Homo sapiens: one gene and its partners. The protein of the gene in region 4 interacts with the protein of the main gene of each other region in a biochemical or structural test. Each region holds a gene or a part of one and is shown on either strand. Other genes may lie near its edges.

What was found. The genes of interacting proteins can lie anywhere in the genome.
Region 1: the proteins of WAS (region 4) and ARPC3 form a complex in vitro, tested with the Homo sapiens proteins (one study listed by BioGRID).
Region 2: the proteins of WAS (region 4) and RPA3 form a complex in vitro, tested with the Homo sapiens proteins (one study listed by BioGRID).
Region 3: the proteins of WAS (region 4) and TCERG1 form a complex in vitro, tested with the Homo sapiens proteins (one study listed by BioGRID).

The regions. Positions count from the first base shown.
Region 1 is NC_000012.12:110,433,488-110,438,096, reverse strand, and holds the end of ARPC3 (actin-related protein 2/3 complex subunit 3), read left to right. Parts: intron 1-944; coding exon 945-1,013; intron 1,014-1,413; coding exon 1,414-1,540; intron 1,541-1,892; coding exon 1,893-1,987; intron 1,988-2,879; coding exon 2,880-2,942; 3' UTR 2,943-3,274; downstream 3,275-4,609. UniProt on the Homo sapiens protein: Component of the Arp2/3 complex, a multiprotein complex that mediates actin polymerization upon stimulation by nucleation-promoting factor (NPF).
Region 2 is NC_000007.14:7,707,773-7,712,873, reverse strand, and holds part of RPA3 (replication protein A 14 kDa subunit), read left to right. Parts: intron 1-5,101. UniProt on the Homo sapiens protein: As part of the heterotrimeric replication protein A complex (RPA/RP-A), binds and stabilizes single-stranded DNA intermediates that form during DNA replication or upon DNA stress.
Region 3 is NC_000005.10:146,481,067-146,486,167, forward strand, and holds part of TCERG1 (transcription elongation regulator 1), read left to right. Parts: exon of another isoform or gene 1-83; coding exon 84-134; exon of another isoform or gene 135-380; coding exon of another isoform or gene 381-504; exon of another isoform or gene 505-1,525; coding exon 1,526-1,661; exon of another isoform or gene 1,662-2,473; coding exon 2,474-2,563; intron 2,564-4,071; exon of another isoform or gene 4,072-4,184; intron 4,185-4,646; exon of another isoform or gene 4,647-4,971; intron 4,972-5,101. UniProt on the Homo sapiens protein: Transcription factor that binds RNA polymerase II and inhibits the elongation of transcripts from target promoters. Regulates transcription elongation in a TATA box-dependent manner.
Region 4 is NC_000023.11:48,689,363-48,693,528, forward strand, and holds the end of WAS (actin nucleation-promoting factor WAS), read left to right. Parts: coding exon 1-72; intron 73-787; coding exon of another isoform or gene 788-1,107; exon of another isoform or gene 1,108-1,744; coding exon 1,745-1,800; 3' UTR 1,801-2,065; downstream 2,066-4,166. UniProt on the Homo sapiens protein: Effector protein for Rho-type GTPases that regulates actin filament reorganization via its interaction with the Arp2/3 complex. Important for efficient actin polymerization. Possible regulator of lymphocyte and platelet function.

The DNA of each region.
Region 1 (4,609 bases), on a different chromosome or scaffold from region 4:
CTCAAACTCCTGGGCTCAAGCAATCCACCCACCTCAACCTCCCAAAGTGCTGGGATTACAGGCATAAGCCACTGCACCTGGCCTAAATTTGTGTAAAATTTGACCCAAAGTCCATACCACATTTGATCAACATTCATTTGTCTTCTCCACATTTTCTTTTTGGTTAGGTCAAGACATTGAGATTATGGAGTTCTTTGGGAGCAAGTCAAATGTGAAATAGTTGCTTCCTCCTTTAGAGTAATGACTATTTCTGTTCTCGGCAGAGACCCTGAAGGGAAGGGTTTTTAAAAATTAGCCAACCATATGGAGCAGTTCAGGCTTTCCAGGCAGCTTTGTTACTTCTTCCTATACAGTGAGGGGCTGTTGACACAGATCCTTGGGAACCCTGGGGCAAGGGGAGCCGAGAAAAACAAGAGAGAGCAGCCACTCAGCCGAGCGTGGTGGCTCATGCCTGTAATCCCAGCACTTTGGGAGGCTGAGGTGGACAGATCACTTGAGGTCAGGAGTTCGAGACCAACCTGGCCAACATGGTGAAACCCCGTCTCTACTAAAAATAGAAAAATTAGCCAGGCGTGGTGGCGGGCACCTGTAATCCCAGCTACTCGGGAGGCTGAGGCAGGAGAATTGCTTGAACCTGGGAGGTGGAGGTTGCAGTGAGCTGAGATTGTGCCACTGCACTCCAGCCTGGGCAACAGAGCAAGACTCCGTCTCAAAAAAAAAAAGCAGCTGCACATCTCAGAGTGGGGCTTGTGCCTTCCTCCCAGGGGCAGACGGAAAAGGAGACTGAGGAGACTGTGCATTTGGAGAATGGGAGTTTTGATGTGATAGTGGCTGTCCTACCACTGCATTCAGCAGATAATCAGAAGACAAAGATGGAATGCATACATTGCACATCATTGTTATGTTTTGATAACTGTTTTTAAGTCTTCTTTTTCTCCCTGTAGAATGAAGCTGATAGGACCTTGATATATATAACTCTCTACATTTCTGAATGTCTGAAGAAACTGCAAAAGGTAATTAAACTTGGATGATTGTATATCAGGAAAACAAATTGCTGAGAGGCATTTACCCTCCCAGTCATCTGGGATTTGTTGAGACTTTAAAGACAAGTAGAAAATATTTCCTCTGACTTACAGCATGGACTTAAGAGAAAAATTTGAATTTAGTTACCTGAACTTGTAGTATAATTGACTGACACAAAGATAAAAGTAGTGGTGTTTTAAGGCTTTGAATATATTTTCTCAAGACAGAAATCTTGACAGAGGAATTCCTTTTAAGCCCTTGACTCAAGGGTTCTTAACCTGGGGTCCAAGGATAGAATTCTTCTTTTCCCTGTAAAATATGTGTGTGTGTGTGTGTGTGTGTGTGTGTGTGTGTGTGTGTGTATATATATATATATATTTTTTTTTCCAGTGCAATTCCAAAAGCCAAGGTGAGAAAGAAATGTATACGCTGGGAATCACTAATTTTCCCATTCCTGGAGAGCCTGGTTTTCCACTTAACGCAATTTATGCCAAACCTGCAAACAAACAGGAAGATGGTAAGAACAGGTCTCTATCCTCACTCTGTGACACAAGAAGATTTTCTCCATTTGACTTCCTACCACCCCTCTTTTTCTTGCCTTGATTCATGTACAGATTGAGAGTGAAATCATAGGAAGTACATTATCTTATTAGTCACTCTCACAAACGATTCTTGGCAACAAGGATGACATGCAGAAAATCTTTTGAACAAAAACAAATATAGTTATAAAACTATCTGGACTGTCATTTCTATTTTGTATCCTGTTCAAATGTATAAAAATGTATTACCACAGTGAGCATCCAGAGCTGCAACCAGTACATTTGGGATGTATTTGCAAATACAGTTTTTTTTAAATTGTTCTGTTTTAGAAGTGATGAGAGCCTATTTACAACAGCTAAGGCAAGAGACTGGACTGAGACTTTGTGAGAAAGTTTTCGACCCTCAGAATGATAAACCCAGCAAGGTAAGACCCTCTTCTTGCCTGCTTAATTGGTAAATCACCTTTTATCCCATAGCCACCATTGAACACACTAAGGTCTTCCATTGCAAGAATATTTTTAATTTCTGCATTGCAATGTTGCTTAACTTCCAGTATATGTCTAGTATGTAATATGAGTTCACTGAATCACACTAAATAATGAATTGCAGGCCGGGCGCAGTGGCTCACGCCTGTAATCCCACCACTTTGGGAGGCCGAGGCGAGTGGATCACTTGCGGTCAGGAGTTCGAGACCAGCCTGGCCAACATGGTGAAACCCCCATCTCTACTGAAAATACAAAAAATTAGCCAGGCATGATGGTGTGCACCTGTCATCTCAGCTACTCAGGAGGCTGAGACAAGAGAGTCGCTTGAACCCAGGAAGTGGAGGTTGCAGTGAGCCAAGATCATGCCATTACACTCCAGCCTGAATGACAGAGTGAGACTTTGTCTAAAAAGGGTTTATGGCCAGGCGCGGTGGCTCACGCCTCTAATCCCAGCACTTTGGGAGGCCAAAGCAGGCGGATCATGAGGTCAGGAGATTGAGACCATCCTGGCTAACATGGTGAAACCCCGTCTCTACTAAAAAATACAAAAAATTAGCCAGGCGTGGTGGCAGGCGCCTGTAGTCCCAGCTACTGGGGAGGCTAAGGCAGGAGAATGGCATGAACCCAGGAGGCGGAGCTTGCAGTGAGCCAAGATCACACCACTGCACTCCAGCACTCCAGCCTGGGCGACAGAGCGAGACTCCGTCTCAAAAAAAAAAAAAAAAAGTTTATAAGAGATTCCAGACTAATGTGAAATTTTATTATTAAATAAATGCAAATTCTATTGTAATTTGACCCCGCTGTTCATTCTGTGTTGTTCTCTCTTGTTAGTGGTGGACTTGCTTTGTGAAGAGACAGTTCATGAACAAGAGTCTTTCAGGACCTGGACAGTGAAGGGAGCCCGGGCAGCCACCGTCTCCAGAGCCCTGGGCAGCATTTTCCAGCAAGATGTACACAATCTTTTGCCTTTATTTCGTAAAGTTTTATACAGAAGAGAGAAGAGCATGTCTTTACTTGAAAAACTCTTGATCAAGAATTTGGGTGGGAGAAAAGAAAGTGGGTTATCAAGGGTGATTTGAAATTTTCTGCAGCATTAAAGCTGGCGCTTAATAAGAATAAGTAATAATAAAGAAATTTCTAACATTCCATGTCAGAAAAACTTTATTGCCAGTCTTTGACATTCACTTACAATTTGTTTTGAGATAAAATTCACATTCCATAATGCCCTTTTAAAGTGTACAATTCACTTTTTTTAGTATATACATGAAGTTTTACAACCATCCCCAGTAAATCCAGAGCATTTTCATCACCCCGGTGTAGTGAACCTGCACTCTTTAGCAGCCACCCCACCCCACATTCCTCCCCAAGCCCCCTGTCCCTCCCACCCCTCCTCCCAGTATTAATCTACTTTCTGTCTCTATGGATTTGCTTATTCTGGATAATTCATGTAAATTGAATTTTTTATACAACATGTGGCCTTTTATGTCTAGCTTCTTTGACTTAATGTTTTCTAATTCATCCATGTTAGAGCATATATCAGTGCTTTCTTTTCTCTTTTTCTTTTTTTTCTCTCTGTGTATATGTATGAAATAAAATATACTAATATGGCCAGGCGCAGTGGATCACGCCTGTAATCCCAGCACTTTGGGAGGCCCAGGCGGGCAGATCACCTGAGGTCGGGAGTTTGAGACTAGCCTGACTAACACGGAGAAACCTGGTCTCTACTAAAAATACAAAAACCAGCCGGGCCGGGTGCGATGGCTCACGCCTGTAATCCCAGCAATTTGGGAGGCCCAGGCAGGCGGCTCACCTGAGGTCAGGAGTTTGAGACCAGCCTGACCAATATGATGAAACAATGTCTCTACTAAAAATACAAAAATTAGCCGGGCATGGTGGCACGCGCCCGTAATCCCAGCTATTCGGGAGGCTGACACAGAAGAATCGCTTGAACCTGAGAGGCAGAGGTTGCAGTGAGCCGAGATCGCACCATTGCACTCCAGCTTGGGCAACAAGAGCGAAACTCCATCTCAAAAAAAAAAAAAAAAAAAAAAAAAACTCAGCTGGGCGTGGTGGCGCATGCCTGTAATCCCAGCTACTCGGGAGGCTGAGGCAGGAGAATCGCTTAAACCTGGGAGGCAGAGGTTACGGTGAGCCGAAGGTTGCGGTAGGCTGAGATCGCGCCATTACACTCCAGCCTGGGCAACGAGTGAAACTTCGTCTCAAAAAAAAAAAACGGCCAGACGCGGTAGCTCACGCCTGTAATCCCAACACTTTGGGAGGCCAAGGCGGGCGGATCATAAGGTCAGGAGAATCGAGACCATCCTGGCTAACACAGTGAAACCTCCGTCTCTACTAAAAAAATACAAAAAATTAGCCAGGCGTGGTGGCGAGCGCCTGTAGTGCCAGCTACTCAGGAGGCTGTGGAAGGGGAATGGCGTGAACCTGGGAGGCGGAGCTTGCAGTGAGTGGAGATTGCACCACTGCACTCCAGCCTGGGCAAGAGAGTGAGACTCCATCTCCAAAAAAAAAAAAAAAAACCTAGAGTTTATGGTAGTACTTGA
Region 2 (5,101 bases), on a different chromosome or scaffold from region 4:
AACACTCTATGCCTATTATGTTTCTACAATAAGCCTTTAGCCAACCAGGAGCAACCCAAAAAAACAAAATGTATTGTATGTAGTAGTTCACAATTGCAAACATTATAAGCATTCTTTTTACAATCAAAAGTGGGGAAAAGATGTTTTCTTTGACACTTCTCTTCAACATACTAGAGGTCCTAGACCATGCAGTAAGACCAAAAGATAAAATGAAACCACAAGGATTTGAATGAAACAAAACTCACTATTCACAGAGGTTATAATTACGTACTTAGAAAATTCAAAAGAATCTAAAGATGAATTATGGGAAGTAAATATTTTATCAAGATGGTTGCTACAAGTATCAGCTACATGTTTCTATGCTGGCAACAAACAGAAAATACAACTTTAAAAATATTTACTATAATAATAAAACAAAAAAGCACTCTAAGAATAAATCTGACAAAAGCAGAAATGTGATTTTTATGAAAAATGCATGGCAATTTTACAAAAATGTATTAAGGAAACCTAAGCAAATGGACAGAAATATATTTCTGAAGAAGACTAAATATTGTAAATATAGCAATTCTCCCCTAAATTAATCTATATGTTCAATAAAATTTCAACAAAAATCACATCAGAGTGGGTAGGTTTGAGTGATTATCCATCTGTTATTCATTTTTTATTTATTTGGCATAAGATCAACTGATGCTTCATTATATAGAAAAGCAGAGAACAAAGGAAGGTTGAGATGGTTTTAAAGGATGGTAATATAATGAGCTTTATGACATTGGCTAAGAGAGAGAAAAATAGCCTCATAAAGTAGGAGAACCAAAGATACTATATATGTAAGAGTAAGCTTGGAAGATACGTGAAGAAAAGAAGATGAATTAATCCAAAATAGTACTAAGAAAATAGGTTATCCCTACAAAAAAAAATTAAAATCGGATCGCTATACCACACTATAACCAAAGTTAACCATAGAGCTATAAGAAGATGCTATAGGAAGATGACTTTCTGATCTCCAAGAAGGGACTTTTTAAATCAGACTGAAATATGAAAGTTAAGGAAAAGTTTTATATATTTTAAAACTGTCACATCAAAATGTCTCTTCATTAACAGATAAAAAGAAAAACATAAGTCATTAAAATGCAACAAAATTTGTAACTAGATCCCCTTAGAATCAACTTTTTAAATGACAGACAATACAGCAGGGAAAAGAGATCAATAGTGATTTTACTGAGCAAAAAAACCACATATGACTATTAAACATAAATAAAAATGTCCAATTCCATTATAAACAAGAAAATGTAAATTAAAAACACAAGATACCATTTTCTAACCAACAGACTGATAAAAATTTAAGTCTCACAGTATTACATGTTAAAAAGGATAGAGTATAATATCCTTGAAGTACAATATCCTTAAAAAGGATAGAGTATAATATGAAAAGGATAGAATTTTCATATACCACTTGGGAAAAAAATTTGCCATGATTTACTAAAGTTAACATGTGCATAGCCTGTAATTCCTCCCGGAAATAAAATCTAGAGGAAAGCTCACATATGTGCACCAGGAGACATGTACAAGGATGTTTGTAACAGCATCATGTTGTCTTTTAATTGAACTTTTTCAGATAATTCTAGATTCACAGGCAGATTGGAGAAATTATATGGAAATATCCCATGTAGCTTCTACCTGGTTTACCACAATGGCAACATCTTGCAAAACTATAGTTCAATACCACAACCAGGATATTTCATTCACACAGACCAGATACAGAACATCTCCATAACCACCAGAATCCCCAGTGTTATCCTTCTATAGCCACACACACTTGCCTCTAACTTTCACCCCATCCTTACCCACCGGCGACCAATGATTTCTCTATTTTTTGTGTACAGTTTGGTCATTTCAAGAATGCTACATAAATGAAGTCATACAGTACGTTACCTTTAGGGATTGGCTCTTTTCACTCAGCATAATTCTCTGGAGATTCATCCAGGTTGTTGTATATATCAACAGTTTGTTACTTCTTCTTGCTGAGTATTATTCCATGATATAGATATACCATAGATTTAACCATTCACCTGTTGAAGGATATTTGGTGTGTATCCAGTTTGGGTCTATTATGAATAAAATTGCTATAAATACTCAGTTTTATGCACATATACGTCTTCAATTTCTCTGGGATAAATGCCCAAAGTGTAATTGCTGAGTCGTATAGTAACTGCATATTCAGCTTTTCAGAAACTGTCTATTTTCCAGAGTAATTGTACCATTTTACATTCCTATCATCAATAAGTGATCCAGATTCTCTTCATCCTTACCAGCATTTGGTGTTATTACTATTTATTTTAGCTATTCTGATACAGGTTTGTAGAGACCTATCATTATGGTTTTAATTTGCATTATGGCTAATGACACTTATTCATGTGCTTATTTGCCATATGTATATCCTCTTCAGTGAAATGTCTCTTCATGTCTTTTGCCCATTTTCTAATTTGGTTTTATGTTTTTTTGTTTTTTGTTTTTTACTGCTGAGTTTTGCAAGTACTTATTCTAGGGACTAGTCCTTTCATTTTGGGCAATTTTTGCATAAAGTGTGAGACACAGATCAAGGTGTTTTGTTTTTTCTTCTGCCTACTAATGTTCAGTAACAGCACTGTTTTTAGGAAAACAAAACAAAACCCCAAATGTTCATCATCAGAACAGATATATAAATTGTGGTATATTCATCAATGGAATGTCAAATAAAAATGAAAGAACTAAAGATACATAGAGCAATATAGATGAGACCAGATACATGATACTGAGTGAGAGAGGCAAATTGCTGAAGAACATATTGTACATACATTGTGAGTGACTCGATTTATATATGGTTGTAAAACATACAAAACTACACATATGAAAAATATGTTAACACTATTTAAAAAGAGACCCCAAAAAAGCAGAATTTAAAGAGTGGAATTTACCTCTGAGGTGGGAGTAAGGAGAAGACTTAGAGAACTTCAAGGTTAACAAGAAATTATATTTCTTAAACCAATTGGTGGGTACACAGGTGTTCATCACATTGTCATTCTGAATATGTTCTCATTATTTAAAAAAAAAAACTTTAAAAGGTTATTTTTCAAATTGAGATTTGCATAAGCAAGAGCTAAGAATAATAGCTGGTAAGATGTCACTTTAAAGATCTTACCCTCAGCAGGTAAAAAAACAGTTATTATAAATTGTAATACAGGAACATACCAAACAGACCCTTGTTAGGGAAAGATGACTTCTGAGCAAACAGGTGACTTCTGACAAACCATTCTTATCCCACAAGCCTCATTTTGCCCTTGCAGGCTCAGCGCCTGACTTTTCTTTCAACTTCAAGTCCCCCAGTCATTCACCTTCTCTCCACACAGTTCCTTCTGCTTTGTTTTACAGCATTCTGCCCTCCTCGGGTGGCAATGCTTTAAGTCAACACCAACATCTGACCTCTCCAGCTTATCCACAGGACTTATCTTCTTAAGAGATGGTGTGAGGACAAAGGGTGAGCCTTCCTGACTTGAATTAATGACGACCCACAATTGAACAAGTTTCTAATGTTCATATTTACAAAGAATATAGTCTAGAATCTCAGTTAAATCCATATTAAAAGTAACCCCATGCATAACATTATTCACACATATAATTGAGATAAATCTCAGCACACAGATAGGAAAACAAAGACAGTCAATTTCAAACAACTAATAAAATTATTTAACCATTACAAAATCCCTTAACCATGCCGAATTTTGCAAAATATCTAAGAAATTATTATGCAAGACACTGAAAGATGTGTTATTAAGTAGTTAATTGGTATTTTTAATAGTTAGGACTGTTTTCCTCTTCTGTCTTCTCCTCCTCTCCTCTTTTCCTCCCACACTTTCTCCCTTCCTCTCCCTTTCTCTCTCTCTCCCTCTCTCTCTCTCACACACACACAGACACACAAACACAAACACACACCCCTTGCTGGTTAAAAACTTCTTAAAAACATACAACTGCCTGTATTTGTATATATACATATGCATTTGGTGTCTTGTTATAACTTCCCTTTAAACCACATATTAATGGGCAAAAAAAGTCCTAACATTCTATCTGTTGAAAAGCTGGGTCTGTCTCCAATAAACATAGTTGCTCGTTTCAGTCAAATCAGCTTATTTACTAATTATAAAATATAATTTTAAGATGGCCAAAACGAAGTAGTAGGAAAAGTATATTACTACTTTAATGGAATTTGCTTCTATTTTTGAGGTCTGTCCCAAAAGGACAAATATGTTGACTTATTTTTAAAGGTTTCCTTTCAATGTTTCAAGTTATAAAGCACTGCTGCTTTTGTAAAAGATCCTATTAATTTCTTAACAGAGTGTTAGACCTGATCCCCTTATATCCAAAATGGTAAATGCTGTCTAATAAATACATGGGTGATTGAATAAGGGTCACTGACACTTGGGTAACTGTTTAATACAGAAACAATTTATAATATATATCTCTCTACAAAACTAAAGCTGAGCAATCAATAATTTTGTCTTCCTTCGTCTACAAGTAGCTTATTCAACATTAACTAGTAAACCAAGGGTGAAAGGGAGGGTTGTAAATCACGAAGAAAAGATTCATTTTATTCTTAATTCCCACTTGAATCTATGTAAAATGTTAAGTTACAGACAGTTAAGGAGAAGCTGTTGTGTTTGAATATGTAATTGCTATTTAGATGATAATGGCGTGGATGTCGCAGCAGAACCATGATCCAAATTTGAATAAGGTCTTAATGAAGGAGGCTAAGAGAAGAATGACGACTGAAATACAACAGTGTCAGCAACAGACCTTAATGAAGCAAATTACTTTCAGTACCTTTGTGATTCAGGAGGAGCCGCATTAAAAAAGTGACAACTAAAGGATCAAAAGCAGGACCTTTGCAAACTAAACATGCTTAAAACATGACATCACTGTCTGGGCAACAAGGCATTGTGGAAAGCAGCCTCAATGTTTGGGTTTTACAGCTCACATAGCAAAATAACTACATTAAAAGATCTGGCTAGGCAAACCAGTTTCCTTAGAAAGCATCTTTATATTTCAAGTTAATGACATTTCTGAACAG
Region 3 (5,101 bases), on a different chromosome or scaffold from region 4:
TCCTACGATGTTAAACTTTTAGGTTGTTTTTAATTGTTTGTTCTTATAGACAACTCTGTAAGGTTTTTAACTGCTTTTATCAGGAGAATGTCAAAGAAGTCCTTTATGTGGATTGCCCGAGCTTCTCTATTTAGGTACAAAGCTAAAAGCCTGTTTTTCCTGGCTTAGTTTTTCTTTTATTTCCTTTATTGAGATAGATAGTGATAGTTTGTATTGTGACATTTTCATTTAGTATAGTTCTATAAAGGTTATTTGTTTTTATTAGTTACTTCTTGGATGTCTTTTAACTCTAACTATTTAAATAGTTTTAAAATTATTATTATAAGAGGGTATATTGTTTGGCAAATTGCTTTTACCTGTTTGTTTTGTGCATATCTTAGGTCACAGACTATCTCGCTAAGTTCCTGCAGGTCACGGACTATGTCTTCTATTTCTTTTGATTCATTGCCTAAGTTGCTAAGTACCTCTCACTTGCATTTGTGGGTTAGCCTTAGTTCCATTTAAATCTCTGGGGCTACCTACAGTTTCCTGTATAGCATGCTTTTGAATTTCCACATGTTCTGTTTTCCTAATTCCCTTAAGTTTGTATAGGGAATAAGAGCCAATTTTTAAAATATACTTAGCAGATCATATTTAAGAAGGAAGATCTGCTAAAATACACCCAGATATTATTGAATTACATACTTTTTTGGATTATTTACGTGAATGGGCCTTTTTCATAGTGCATATATTTGAGAGGTGCCGTGATTCCATGTTTACAATTTCACTTGAGTACCACACAGAAACAGGGTTGCCCTTACACCTGAGGTGCATTTTTGGAGGAACAAGAAGTAGTTTAGTCATTGATGAACAGTTCTAATTCCACCTAACTACTCCTGGGCCCATGTTGCTCTCTGGGACCTGTCCTTCAACTTAAATCTCAACTTATCACCCAGAAAGTGAGTAATAAAAAGTCAGGTAGGTAAGGTATATATCTTACATATTCACTTGGCCAAGATTGCAGATATTTTAGTTTTATTTTTAAAATGAATGTTTGAGATTACTAAAACATTATACCACTTAATACCAATTTTTATTAGATTTTACAAAATATTTTATGTGTTTATAATGTAAAACATTTTGGAAAATACTGTTTTTTCTATATTTCAAGAACTAAAAAAATTATATTTTGTGCTGTTTGATTCTGACACATAGAGGTTTACTGCAGTGTTAAACTTTTTTTTTTTTAAGTAAGGTTGCTCCCTTTTTATGTTATTAACCAGTGTCAGGGAGAGACAGCCCATTAAAGGTGTATTTTTTTCCTAATAATGTAGCCATTGTAAATCATTAGAAGCCCATTTTAATTTTGTTATTATGAAAGTTATTTATCCCTTAGAGTTCATTTGAAACCCTCAATATAATTTGTTTTTGCCAAAAATATGCTGCTCAGTAGTGAGTCTTGAAAATTCCTTTGATTTTAAGATTTCTAATAAGATCTGAGAATTAATATTTTGTCAGTTGATGTCTTATATTTTATTTTTTATAGGAGAGACGATAATAAAGACATTGACTCAGAGAAAGAAGCTGCCATGGAAGCTGAAATTAAAGCTGCCCGAGAAAGGGCCATTGTCCCTCTGGAGGCTCGAATGAAGCAGTTCAAGGACATGCTGCTAGAGAGAGGGGTCAGAAAACAATCTTTGGGGGAGATATTTCTGTTTTGTATAAGTAATATAAATATGTCTTGCTAAAAGGTCAAATCTAAGGTTAGTGCTCATGTTATGGGGGGGGATAAGGGGATTTTTAAAATTACTGTACATTTTTTGCAACAGCCTTTTTCTTGGCTAATCTTATCATATTTAACTAAATGCCATTTTACTGTCCTTTTAAGTACAAATAACACTTAACATTTATTGGGTCATTAAATTGTGGTGAGTAATATAAGACGAGTATTAACATTACAGAATGGCGGACTGCTTGGGATAGGTAAGGTATATATGATTATTCTTCCTTTAATATCTTGAGAATGGCTTTTGTTAAAGGAGAACTGATACTTTGTGATATTATTATTTGCAATTTAATTGAGAAGGGATTTCAACTATTTGGTTATATTCACAGATTCATTTGAATAAGTAAAATTGTTCAATTTTAAATCACAACATTGTTCACAAGATTGGAGCAAGCATGAGAAATCAAAATATAAATCTTCAAGGCTTTTTCTGATGTACTGATTTTTAAAATGTCACACAGTAGTAGTTATTTTAATGAGTAATTAAGTGTCTGTTATTTCTATATAATATAGGAATGTTCAGAGCCAATTAGTGTGGAAATTTGCTATTGCTAGCCTCCCACTGCTTGTCATTTATTAGTGATGGAAACTTCAGTATGGTTTTATGTCTCCTTTATAAACAGATATCCTGTAGATTTCAAGCAAAATTATGACCTTTATATTTTTAGAGGAGACTTAATTATGAGGCAATACGTTTTTATTTTAAAGGTGTCTGCTTTTTCAACGTGGGAGAAGGAGTTGCACAAGATAGTTTTTGATCCCCGGTACTTACTTCTCAATCCTAAAGAGAGAAAACAGGTAAAAGGAAAATGGCATTAACTAAGAATGTATATCTCTTGCCAACATAGTTTTTAAATTATAAGGAATAAAGTACCATCCCTTTTTTTTCTGATACAGCATTTCAAAAATATAGTCTTGCATCTTAGAACATATTATGTGTCTGTGTGTGGACATTTCTACTTCAAAATTCTTGGATATTTTTGCCCTTATGAGCATGGCTGTTGTCTTGTAAACATTTTGTCCTTATGCCTCATATACCTAGGTTATGTGTAGTATGGTTTTAAAATTGATTTCAAATGCATTTACTAATTTGCTTGTTTGGGCCAATGATGCAAATTTAGAGTAGAAAAATAGCAAAATACAGATGAGTAAAAAGGATAAAAAAGCTACTGTAATCCCAACTAATAGATATGACTACCGTTGAACACTGGTTTATTATTGAATACTGAACAGCCTTCTTGACCATTATGTGTCAGTATGTACATATATATGTGTGTGTGTGTCCTGTAGATAGTACTTGAACATAGGTTTATGTCTTATACACAACTGCATATACAAAGTTCACATCTAAGTAGCATCTGTTAAAATATCTGTTTCCATCATAAACTCAGAAAAACAGTGGATACTTAAGGGTCCCTGTTGAATTAGTGTTGCTTTTTATTCCCATGATGATTCAGTGACACATATCATTTCGTGATTGCCTCTTCTAAAGCATTGCACACTTCCAACTTACTTAATTTCTGAATTACCTGAACTATCCTGACACTGATCTCCATAAAATGGTGAGTATGTGGAACCACTTGCTATAGTGCTGTTAAGCTGTAAGATTTCATTTGGTAACAGTAGTGCCCATCTTTGATATTTTTAATGTAACAATTGAAATAATTCTTCACATGGTGTGTACCATTATGCATGTAGGTCTAATCATGGACTTGAATGAAGGGAGAAAATTTACAATGTGCCAGATATGTATTTTAGTACTTGGAATAGAAAGACATAACTTCCTTAATGTATTTGCATCTTCATTTTAAGCTTTGTATCTTTTTTAAAAAACAAACTCTGTGTGAGTTTTTTATTCTCATTTCAGTTTATGGCTCTATCAAAATTTATAAATTAGCCTTGATTCCTTACTTTTCCCACTTCCCCTTTACAGTCTTATCAGCAAATCTATAATCTACCTTCAAAAAATTTTCAAAATCTCACCTTTTATTAATCATTTCCCCCATTAACACCCTAATCCAAGCCACCATAAACAACCCTTATCATCTGTGTAGCCTATTGTTGATCTCCTTCATTCCATCTGTTCTTGTTCCTCTTTAGTCAAGTTCTTTTTCCACACAGCAGCCAGGCTAATTTTAAAGTTTAAGTGATACTAAATTAAGTCACTGTTCCCTTGCTTAAAACTGTTTAGTGCTTTCCATTTCATTGAGAATAAAATTGAAGCTCTTTTCATGGTCTCTAATATTCTACATAGACTTACCCCTGTATACCTCTTGATGGTCTTTTTTAATGTCTGTTGATTACAGCCACACTGGCCCTGATATTACTTGAACAAGCCAGTCATTCTGGTGTTTGCTATTCCTTCTGCCTGGACTGTTTTTCCTCCAGGTGTTAGTACAGCCAGCTTCATTTCATTAAGGTACTTGTCCCAGTGCCTTCTAATCAATCTAAGTATTGTCTCTTTGCCTTTTCTAATTTCTTTATGGTGCTCATGGCTCTAATTGTATAAAATTATGTTTTTATTATTTGTCTCCTCCTCCTGCAAAATATAAATTGTATGAGGCTAGAAACTTTGTCTTCATTGCTTTATTTGTAGTGCCTGGAACATTGCCTAATCTAAATATCTCTGAAGGCTTTAAAACTTTTATGACGTATTCCTCCTGGTACTGAGTGTTATAGTGAAATTAGAAGTAACATATTGAGAACTATAGTTCTTTCCCAATTTTTGAAGCATTCTATAAGCTGATGGTGGTATCTCCTTAATAGAATTACGTTTGAAAAGAGAAAATATTATTCTAGTGTTCTGTTTTCAATAAAATCTCTAGTTAAAAGTTCTCATGCCATTTATTTATTTATTTATTTTATGCATCTATTTATTTAGAGATGGAGTCTTGCTCTGTTGCCCAGACTGGAGTGCAGTGGCGCCATCTCATCTTACTGCAGCCTCTGCCTCTCAGGGTTCAAGTGATCCTCCCACCTTAGCCTCCCAAGTAGCTGGGATTACAAGCGTGCACCACCATGCCCGGCTAATTTTTCTATCTTTAGTAGAGACAGAGTTTCACCATGCTGGCCAGGCTGGTCTTGAACACCGGACCTCAAGTAATCCGCCTGCCTTGGCCTCACAAAGTGTTGGGATTACAGGCGTGAGCCACCACGCCTGGCCTTTCATGGCTTTTAAATAGAATTCTTCTCTCAACAATCAGAATGTAAGAACTGAGAAGAAGTAGTAGTTAACATTTGGCATTTAAAAATAAACACGTTTTTTGAATACTTGGTTTTATTATTTGCATAGGAGTATAAAATGAACAACCAGAAAGGTGCTAGGTTGCACATTAC
Region 4 (4,166 bases):
AGAGCTCAGAGGGACTGGTGGGGGCCCTGATGCACGTGATGCAGAAGAGAAGCAGAGCCATCCACTCCTCCGGTGAGCTGATCCTGCCGGGGCCTCAAACCTGGCTCCCAGGGCTAGCACTGGCCTCAAAACAATCCCAGCAGTCACCACCAATAGTGACATCAGCCCCATCTGTTTGACAGCATTAACATGAATCTTGTGTCAGCCTCGTTTTTGACAATGTTAACATTAAGTCATTATGTGACAATAATATAATTAACTCCAACTTTGACAGTAATATTAACATTAATGCCAGGGTGTGTCCACAATATTAATGTCATTCCCACATGTTCAGTACTATTAACATCAGCTGGCCGGCGCGGTGGCTCATGCCTGTAATCCAGGAACTTTGGGAGGCTAAGGCAGGAGGATCACTTGAGCCCAGGAGTTCGAGACCAGCCTGGGCAATATAGTGAGACCTCGTTTCCATAAAAACTAAATTCAAAAAAAGTAGTCAAGCATAGTGGTGTGTGCCTGTGGTCCCAGCTACTTGGGAGGCTGAGGTGGGAGGATTGCTTGACCCTGGGAGGTCAAGGCAGCAGTGATCCATGATTGTGCCACTGCACTCCAGCCTGGGTGACAGAGATCCTATCTCAAAAAAAAAAAAAATTAACCCATTATGTGATGACAATATTATGAAGAACACTATTGTTGACAATATTAATTTTAATTCCATGTATTAACAGATTTACATTAATTCATTATGACGTAACCTAATCTAATCTTTTAAAAAATTTTTTTGAAACAGGGTCTCGCTCTGTGTCCCAGGCTGGAGTACAGTGGTGCAATCATGGCTCAGTGCAGCCTCAACCTCCCAGGCTCAAGCGATCCTCCCGCCTCAGCTCCCAAAGTAGCTGGGACTACAGGCGTGTGCCACCATACCTGGCTAATTTTTGGTGTTTTTTTGGTAGTGATGAGCTCTCACTACCAAGCTCTCACTACTCTCATGTTGCCCAGGCTGCTCTGCAACTCCAGGGCTCAAGCGATCTGCCCCGCCTCAGCCTCCCAGAGTGCTGGGATTACAGGCATGAGCCACCAGGCCTGGCTGTTAACCTAATCTTTTTATAATAATGTTACTATTACTCTCTTAATCTGTCAGCAATACTGTCACTAATCCATTATATGATGCAAATATTAGTATCAACCTACTATAGGAACTTCATCTTTCGACAATGATTTTTTTTTTCTTTTGAGACGGAGTCTTGCTCTGTCACCCAGGCTGGAGTGCAGTGGCGCGATCTTGGCTAACTGCAGACTCTGCCTCCTGGGTTCAAGCGATTCTCCTGCCTCAGCCTTCCGAGTAGCTGGGACTACAGGCACGCCACTACGCCCAGCTAATTTTGATGTTATTGTCATTAACCCCATTATGTGTCAAAAATATTAGCGTTAACCAGACAGGAAGCAATAATATATTATCACACCTTTGCTAATATTATTTAAATTCACCCTATTATGTGATAAATAGGTTAACATTAACCCTTTGTTTGACAATATCTCGACTAACCACATTTTTGACAGCATAAACTTCAACTCCAACTAGAACTCAGACCCCAACTATAATCCCTTTCTTGTCCCAAATGGAAACTCTAACTTGCCCTCCTCTAGCATGAGACCTCAGAACCCCAGGGTCCAGTCCTCACCTCCCAGGCCCTATGAAGCCCCCCACCAACCTCCCAGGGCATCTTATCTTTCTCTTTCCCTCCAGACGAAGGGGAGGACCAGGCTGGCGATGAAGATGAAGATGATGAATGGGATGACTGAGTGGCTGAGTTACTTGCTGCCCTGTGCTCCTCCCCGCAGGACATGGCTCCCCCTCCACCTGCTCTGTGCCCACCCTCCACTCTCCTCTTCCAGGCCCCCAACCCCCCATTTCTTCCCCACCAACCCCTCCAATGCTGTTATCCCTGCCTGGTCCTCACACTCACCCAACAATCCCAAGGCCCTTTTTATACAAAAATTCTCAGTTCTCTTCACTCAAGGATTTTTAAAGAAAAATAAAAGAATTGTCTTTCTGTCTCTCTATAAATCTCAGTCTGTTTACATTCCAAATGTGGGAATGGGGTCCCTTTCCCCCAAAGTCCCTTTTATTCATTTATCCCATTTTATTTATTTAGCCTTACATGTATATATTCATTCATTCATTTATTCCCTCAGTCATTTAGCCTGTATTTCTTTGTTTCCTTCTGCCCCTCTGTCTTTCAACATTTATTGTCAGGTACTATTTTAGGGGCTAGGAATCAAGAAGTGGGAAAAAAAACAGACAAGAATTCCTGCCCTTAGGGGGTGAAATCCACATTCTAGGGGAAGAGACAGACAAGAAACAAGAAATCAAATAGAAATAAAAGATAGCTGCAGATCATGATAAATGCTGTGGAGTGGTAAGGCAGAGATACAGATGAAACAACATTCAGATGGAGCAGTCAGGGATGGTCACTTGGAGTAGGTGATGGTGGTGCTGGACCTAAAGAGAGAGAAATGTCGGCCCAGTTAATATTTGGGGAAAAGGGGTTCCAGGCTGAGGGAGCAGCCAGTGCAAAGGCCCTGAGGTGAGAAAAGGCTTGGCATGAGGCCAGATGTCATGCATTTAATTATTTTTTAAAAAAATAATTCAATCGGCTGGGTGCAGTGGCTCATGCCTGTAATTCCAGCACTTTGGGAGGCCGAGGTGGGCGGATCACCTGAGGTCAGGAGTTCGAGACCAGCCTGGGCAACATGGTGAAACCCTGTCTCTACTAAAAAATACAAAAATTAGCTGGGTATGGTGGTGCACACCTGTAATCCCAGCTCCTAATGGGGGCTGAGGCAGGAGAACTGCTTGAACCCGGGAGGCAGAGGTTGCAGTGAGCTGAGATCGTGCCACTGCACTCTAGCCTGGGCAACAGAGCGAGACTCCGTCTCAAAAAAAAAAAATCATTCAATCAACACAATACTAGATTAAGAGCAGCATACTCAATGAGCAGACCTCCCCATTCTCCATGCCCATAACAACTCACACACCAGGATCTTGATGGGCAGGATCCCCCTCTCATTTTTAAAATTTGGCTCTGCCCAGTTCCCAGTTCAAATCAAGCACTGGCCAATTGCAATGGAAAAGGCAAAGACTTAATTATCAGACAGATCTGCTCTAGAACCCGGGAAAGATGCCTCACCTCTGAGCTTTGGTTTCCGCATCTATACAATGGAGGTAACTGATTTCCAACGGGGATCCCACTGAGTCACCTCTCTGCCTCCTCAGGACTTGCTCTCCCAGAAACAAAGGAGTAACTCAAAAGCGTCCTTGGCGTTTACAGCTATTTCCAAGGGCATAATTAGAAACTGTTGCACAGCAAAGCCTAGAATTGAGCTCCCTGCCCCTTCCGATTTCTGAAATCTGGTGAATTCGAGATCTCAGACATCCTACCTTTAGAGGAGGAGAAAAAGAGAAAGGTAGTGGGGAGGAAGATAAAGGTGAGGGAGACTCCAGAGAGGGCAGGCTTCTTCAGTCTGCAAGAGCAACGGAAGAATTTCTAGGTGGAAAGGGGAACTCCCCCAAGCTAGAGAAGGAGGGAGTCTCAGGTTTCCTTTAATTCATTATTCTTTACACCGCAACACCACTCCCCACCCCACCCTGACCAGGTCCCCAGATGGGCACTGAGTCTAGGAAGGATCCATCAGCATCATTTATCCCTACTCCCAGTCCCCCACAGAAATCTTAGAAATCCAGTGTTCTGGTTGGCCGGGCGCGGTGGCTCACGCCTGTAATCCCAGCACTTCGGGAGGCCGAGATGGGCGGATCATGAAGTCAAGAAATAGAGACCATCCTGGCTAACATGGTGAAACCTCATCTCTACTAAAAATACAAAAAATTAGCCGGGCGTGGTGGCACATGCCTGTAGTCCCAGCTACTCAGGAGGCTGAGACAGGGGAATTGCTTGAACCCGAGAGGCAGAGTTGTGGTGAGCTGAGATCACGCTACTACACTCCAGCCTGGGCAACAGAGCGAGACTCCGTCTCAAAAAAAAAATGTGGTATACACAATGGAATACTATTCGGCCATAAAAAACAATGAAATCATGTCTTTTGCAGCAACATGAATGAAACTGAAGGCCATTAATTTGAGTGAAACAACTCAGAAACAGAAAGACAAA